Linked DNA regions of Homo sapiens. The protein of the gene in region 2 purifies or fractionates together with the protein of the main gene of each other region. This does not show direct contact. Each region holds a gene or a part of one and is shown on either strand. Other genes may lie near its edges.

Region 1 (3,729 bases), on a different chromosome or scaffold from region 2:
TCTTCCAAAGATGAAAGACATTTTTTCAAATATTATATAAATCACTTTCATAGTAACTATAATATAGAAGTCCAAGATTAATCCAATCTTTAAAATATTTTGCTATATACATTTTCACCCTTTATTCTAACACCAACCCTCAGCAAACTGCAGAAATTGTAATTTCTTAATGAATCTAACTGTGTACTCACTATACACATCAGTGCAACTACTTCCCAAAAAAAGGCAGGCATAATGAGTATACATGATGTTTCATATTAATTTGTTAGTAAGATCAACAAAGATAAAGCTATCAAAATTGAAATAAATGTTACAAGATTAAAATACACAAAGCAACCAATGTCTCATTTTTCAGAAATTCAGCTCATTCACTGGCACTCATAGCAACTCTCTATAGGTAACCATCACGTTACTGATTACCACTAGACACCTCAGAGACTTTGAAATTCCAAAGAGTTACTTGCCCATGATTACACAAGGAGTCAGGAGTACAACAGGATAAAGAAACCTTCCCAATCCATTAGACCACGCGGCCTCCCAGTTTCAGCACTGCTATGCTGCCAGTACTCCTGTAACAAATTTCCCATCACCCATCCAACCAAGCTTTGTCCCTTCACCACAACGCGTTTCTTCAGAATGCCCTTCTTAGCCACCTAAGACTCCCCCAATGATGAGGCAGCCGTAGGTGGAGTTCACAGGTCTCACTGCAGAATCTGAAACCAGATGCACCTACATCTTCGTAGCACGAGGCGTCCATTCTCTCCCTTGATTTTAGGTCTTACATATCTGTTTTGTCATGAAATTAGTGGTTCTCAAATTGAGCCTGTGGATCACCAGAGGCCACTAGGGCCTAAATGGTGGTCCACAGATTAATCTCCATCCCATCCCCTTCACCACAGCCCACCCCACTCCAGCCATCCTCCCTCAGGCTTCCAGTCCCATGGCAAGATCACCACATGCAGAGCTAATACTAGGGCCTCCCAACCACTTGCTGTAACCAGCAGCTGACAACCAAAAGGTCCTGGGGCTACAGGTCACAAGAGGAGTGAGGAACGGGGGCCAAGAGATCTTACAAGAAGGCACAGGCACTAATGAAGCGGGTGGGGTGCGAGGGCAAAGGAATAGAGGAATGGAAAATTAAGGTGGTAGAGGGCTCTTGGGGGCAGTGATCCACTAAAAATAAACCTGTAATAAAGTATCCCATGATGAAGAAAAATTTGAGAACCACTGCTTTGAAATGATTAGGTTAGTAGTCCAGCAGGAACTGTGGAATATTCTGAACAGCACCTGATACACTATTAGCGTTCAAAATAAAGTTAAATCACCCCTTCAAAAGCAGCAGTAACAATTTTTAAAATAACCTTATAAGTTAGTGGCTCTTGAGCCACATTTATACATTTGCCATTTTCTCATGAATCCAGTCCGTCTTCAGTGTCCGCCCTGGAGCATATACACATAGCAAATTTACTTGGAACTTTGGTTAGAGTCACTGGTCTTTTCATGCAGTTTTAATAAACAGTTTCCAAAAAATTTAAACTTTTTGTTCGACACTTTCATATGTGCATATACTGTGTACCTTTTTAATCCAGGCTTGGGCACCAGTATTGGCCAACTGTTCTTGTGTCAAAACCTGTACTCCTGTACTTCCTGTGAACTGGCCAGGAATAGAGTTCAGCTGAGCCCAGGCATCAATCTGAAGAAAAGAAGTAGTCTCAGTTAACTAAGTAAAATTACCTGATTAAAACATCACTGGTAATAATTCACTAAAAATGGCTGAAAAGCAGACTTAAATATTTAACTTTTAAAACATATTTAACATTAAATGTTTGCCTAAACTTTCTAAAGAAGCAGTTTGACAACATTTAGTGAATCCCATTAATAAGATTTTGAAATGTATCTAAAAGCACAGCTACTAAAAAATACAGCTGTTAATATTCTTCAAACTATCACACAGATACACTAAAAATGCAAAAAAGAGCTCATATGACAATGGGTCCCCACCCTCCCTTCCTATCTCATACAAATGTATTGTAATACATGTCATGACAGCCTGGATTCTTAATTACTTCCTTTGAGACATTTATACAGACTAAATTCATGACACAGGTTTAAAGAGTTTAAATGTAGGAAACTGTCCACTTGAATACATAAACGACTATTTTTTTTTGAGATGGAGTTTCTCTCTTGTTGCCCAGGCTGGAGTGCAATGGTGCGATGTCTGCTCACTGCAACCTCCTCCTCCCGAGTTCAAGCGATTCTCCTGCCTCAGCCTCCAGAGTAGCTGGGATTGATTACAAACATGCGCCACCGCGCCCGGCTAATTTTGTATTTTTAGTCGAGACAGGGTTTCTCCATGTTAGTCAGGCTGGTCTTGAACTCCTGACCTCAACTGATCCGCCCGCCTCGGCCTTTCAAAGTGCTGGGATAACAGGCGTGAGCCACTGCACCCGGCCGTAAAACAACTTTTTAAAGAAGCTTGTATACTTTTTTTCAGTCACCAACATTTGTTGTGATAAAGATCAGCTGTCATTCACACAAATTAGATTTACTAAACACCTTGCACTGTCAGCAATGTATTTCCTGTCTGAACATGTACTTACTGATTTACCATAAAACAGTAGAAATGAAATGGAGAGGCTGTCCATTGTTAAAAGCACAGACTCCAGATTCAGATTGCTTGGGTTTGAATCCCAGTTCCCCCACTAATTAGTTGTGTGACTATGGATATCACTTAATCACTCTTTTGTTTTTTTTAGACAGTCTCACTCTGTTGCCCAGGCTGGAGTACAGTGGCGCGATCCTGGCTCACTGCAACCTCTGCCTCCCAGGTTCAAGCATTTCTCCTGCCTCAGCCTCCTGAGTAGCTGGCATTACAGGCATGCAACACCAAACCCAGCTAATTTTTGTATTTTTAGTAGAGATGGGGTTTCATCACCTTGGCCAGGCTGGTCTTGAACTCCTGACTCCTTGCCCCCACCTCGGCCTCCCAAAGTGCTGGGATTACAGGCATCAGCGACCATGCCTGGCCTTAACCACCCTTTACTTCAGTTTTCTCGGCTGAAATATGGCAACTATTAATACCTACACATTTCATAGGGTTGTAGGCACTTAGTTGTTTTTATACACCAGATTGTAAACTCTGTGAGGACAGGGAAATTTTTCTATTTTGTTCTCTCAAGAAACAGTTCCTGCCACATAGTAAACAATAAACATTTATTGAATAAATGATCAGGCCTCGAATCACTTTCATTTAAAATAAGACATTGAAAATAAGGTAAAGGATGTTACAACTCAACCATCTAGTTAGCAAAATTCTTATTTAGACATTAAAACTGGTACATTGGTGTGAGTTGGCTGATGGTAAATAATAATTTTTTTTAAAAAACTGCTACATACCCTTTCCTGAGCTCTATTTAACATGCTCATGGCTTCAAGATCAAATGCATTCTCACTGAGTCTTTTCTGAGCAAGTGCCCGTTCACTCATTGCTGTAGAGATGTCCACAGGCTAAGAAAGAAAACAGAGATAATTATCTCAAATTACCATAGTCCCCTAAATTCTGAAAAGTACTCATATCTTTAGTTGCTACATATCAAAAACAAAATAATAGTCTTATAATACTAATAATCTTGGAAAACAGGGAGAAGACTCAGAAAGAGAAAGTAATCTTGGAAAACAGAAGAGGATTAAGATAAATTACAAAGTATCACACAGGTCGCAGAACTGAAC
Region 2 (3,600 bases):
GGCTTTAAATTATTTGAATGCAAGCAATAAAAAAAAGTATTGTAGAAATAAAAAGCCCCAAATTTCAGTTTTAATTTATTTCCTCTACATTAAGAGAAGGCTGTAGAAAAGTGAGGAGTTTAACAACGTATTTCAGTTTACTGATATCCTTGATAATATGCATTTTAGGGAAAGCACTATAATTTCACATTTTACCATAAAATATATGTAATACATGTCATTAGTGATGCGCTGAACACCTCACATTGTTCCCAATCTTAAGTCATTCACTACACTCAGATTTAACGAGTCATGTCACAAAAAGCATGCCTGTAATTTGACTGCTGACACCACTTGTTTTTCATTTTCAAATGTAAGTTATATAAGCAAACATATACTCAGTGTCTGTTTTGGGCATAGATACTAAGGACACTACAGTGTCTCATCTCAATAAAATCACAATCTAACTGGGTAAGGAGTTAAAACTTTCATCCGGAAATGAAGAGTTCAGTATACGTTCTCCACTAACTTCCAGCCCTACAATCTTCCAAGCAAGCTTAAAAACAAAGCCAAAACCAACCAACCCAGCAAACTTTAAAATGTTACTTCTATTTTGAAACAAATTACACTAAACTTTTGAGAAGAGCAATGAAAAATCAAAAAGCTAACAAGTTTTTTGCCTATGTCAGGTTAAACAAAATTAGAGCACCTTTCAAAAATGACACTAGTCACCTCTAATTTCACTCTAAGACAAGACAGCGTGCTCAAAAAGCCCCAGGCGATTTTTAGACGTTATTTCGAATTGGATTCTCACTTTTTAATGCAATGCAAAGTCAGGAAGCACAATAAACAACAGAGAGAACGTGCACGCGGATGCGGCAGCACAGTTCACCCGGTCCGGTCTCCGTACGGGAGACAACTCTTTCTCAAAAAGGTTAAGTGGCTGTCCCCGGTCACAGCTGTTAATGCAGTACCAACCCTCAGATCTGGGGCTCTCACCTCACCACTCCTGCCTCCATCTCTTACAAACGCTCAGATGGGCGACTGTAACTTTCTGACGACCTACCGAGGCACCGCTCTCATTCAAACCCCACCGCCTAAGGTGGCGAGTAACCAGTTCTACGTTTCCCACCGGGGGAGCGAGACTCAAGGCCGCCGTCGCGGAGCAGCAAAGCGACAGCCGACAGCCCCGCCCGCAGAAGGCCGCGGGAAGGACGGCAAGAGCAGCGGAGACAAAGCAGCGAGGCGAGGTAGCTACAGGCCACAGCGGCGAACGCGCACGGCGGGGGAGAGCGCGGGCCGCCAGCGAGGCGGGGAAAGCTCGGACCGCGGACACCGACGGATGAGGCTGGGGCTCGGCGCGGTGACAGTTCGGGGCTCACGCTCGGCAGGGACACCGCGGCGCCCGCCCCGGCGACGGAAGCAGCGGCGGAACGCGAGCCTCGGCGCTCCGCACACTCACCACTGGGAGCTCCGTAATGGCGGCGGCGGGGGCGGAGAACCCGGGGGGCGGGCCCGCCGCAGCCAGTCACCGCCGCCGGCATCTTTCGAACCGGCTCCGAAAACCGCTGAGGGAGTGGGGTGAGGGGAGGGCGCGGGCGGACGCCGGACCGCGGCGGGCCTCGGAGCATGCGCAGCCCTCAGCCAATCGGGGCGGGCAGAGGACGCCGACGCAGGCGCGCTGGGACGCAGGGTCGCACGGCCAGAGAAGAGCTCCCCCTCCTCCCCCAAATCCAAACAAAACAAGGGCGGGAGCGCGCGCGCCGGAGGGCCCCTGAGGAGGAGTCCACCAAAAGGGCAGGGGGCTAGGTCGCAGGAGAGAGGAAGGGAGCGGGGCGGAGCGGCCGGGTAAGGCAGACAAAAGGCGCCACCTCCGGGGACCCGGGCGCCCCGCCCCCTCCTCTCTGGGAGCGGCGTCGGCGCCCCGGGCGAGCGGCCTCCGCCACTCGCCTTCGGGGCCCAGCGAGCCCGCGCCCACTCCCCGGCCGCCTGTTCGGTCCTGCGTTACCTCTGCGTTCGGCCGGTCCTGGCGCCCGCGTCCCGCACGGCCTCTCGGCGCCGCTCCCGCCGCCGCTAGTCGCCTCCGCCACCGCTGTCCTCCAGTCCCAGCCGCCGAGCTCTGCCGCCCCGCCCCCCTACCCGCGGCCCCGCGCGCGCCCCCGCCGGCCCCGCCTCCCGCGCGTGGGGTGCGAGGGGGCGCGCGGGGACGGGCGGACGCCGGCGGAGCGCGGGGCGTCGGCGCGCGTTCCCGGCGCTGCGTGGTGGCGCCCATTGCCTTGGCGTGGCGGGGCGGTGTCGGTTTCCTCGGAGGGGCGCCGCTTTCCCCCGCTAACCTTCGCTTTCTGTGCTCTCCAGGGCAGTCCCTTCTCTTAACTGGGTTTCCGCTTCTGCCACTCGTCCGCCTTTAGCGGGGCTAGCCTTTCCCGCTTCTCAGTTTAGGCGCAGCTCAAGAGCAAACCTTTTTTTGAAGACCGTAGAATTGGAAAACTAGAGAGCGGAGAATTCACTGCCTCGCACTCGCTCCCATTAAGTCTCCAGACGGTACAGGGCAGAGTAGTGACTCGGGACTCAGAACTGAAAAGTTGAAACGGGCTTTCCGGGCTCCCTAATCCTCACATGCAGGGAGAGTTCCCCAGAATGAAAACCCTGAGATTAGAAGACGGGATTCCCTTTGAATTGTCATATTGCGTTGCTATCAGCGTACTTAAACAACGTACATACGAAGGAAAAGTACAGCTCTTCAAAGCTAGTTTGGAAAGATTGTTTTTAAAGTTTCAGGTGTTGGGGGACAGGGGAGGGACTGGGTAATAAATGTAAGGAAATACCAGTAGAATTGTCCCAAGCTTACAGTAGATGACCAGTACTCAAACGTATGTGCCAAGGTTTATAAAGACTTACGACACCATTTAAGCACTCACCCAGTCGTCTGGCCCTGCCATTAGCATAATTGTCTCACCAGCTTTCCCTGCCACAGCCACCCCACTCTATCAGTTCAAATTTCACAGCCAGCATAAAAAATTCTTTACGAGGTGTGCGTTATCATTCATATCCTGATGGCATTACCAGTCTTTAGTACTCTGGTGTCATATTCCAGCTGTTCAGAAGGGGTTTTGCTCTTTTATGCCATTCTTCATTCTGCTCACTCCCTTCGTTGTTAACGTTTCTGTTGTCTTCCTTTTCAAAGACTTCCATTTTTATGTATTCGTACATTTAAAACATCCTACCGTTCTTCTTTTACCCTAAAATGTCTTTAGACCCATCTCATGTAAGAAGCAGACTCAGATGAGAGCAAACTGGGAGATGTTTCCTCCTCCACAGATTTTTGCTTAAAACAACAACAACAAAACTTAGGCCGAGCATGGTGGTTTACGCCTGTAGTCCCTGCACTTTGGGAGGCCGAGGTGGGAGGATTGCATGAGGCTTGGGGCCAGGAGTTCGAGGCCAGCCAGGGCAACATAATTAGACCCCATCTCTAAATAAATAAATAAGCCAGGAATGGTGGCAAAGGCCTTTAGTCCCAGCTACTCGGGAGGCTGAGGCAGGAGGATCGCTGAAGCCGAGGATTTGAGGCAACAGTGAGCTATGATCACCACTGCGCTCCACCCAGAGAGAGCAAGACCC

Evidence for each region. Proteins that work in one complex are often made in the same cells at the same time.
Region 1: the proteins of HP1BP3 (region 2) and SON fractionate together in Homo sapiens (co-fractionation; one large-scale study listed by BioGRID). This does not show direct contact.

What each region holds. Positions count from the first base shown.
Region 1 is NC_000021.9:33,566,935-33,570,663, reverse strand, and holds part of SON (protein SON), read right to left. Parts: intron 3,508-3,729; coding exon 3,397-3,507; intron 1,694-3,396; coding exon 1,577-1,693; intron 1-1,576. UniProt on the Homo sapiens protein: RNA-binding protein that acts as a mRNA splicing cofactor by promoting efficient splicing of transcripts that possess weak splice sites.
Region 2 is NC_000001.11:20,785,208-20,788,807, forward strand, and holds the start of HP1BP3 (heterochromatin protein 1-binding protein 3), read right to left. Parts: upstream 2,101-3,600; 5' UTR 1,988-2,100; intron 1,466-1,987; exon of another isoform or gene 979-1,465; intron 1-978. UniProt on the Homo sapiens protein: Component of heterochromatin that maintains heterochromatin integrity during G1/S progression and regulates the duration of G1 phase to critically influence cell proliferative capacity.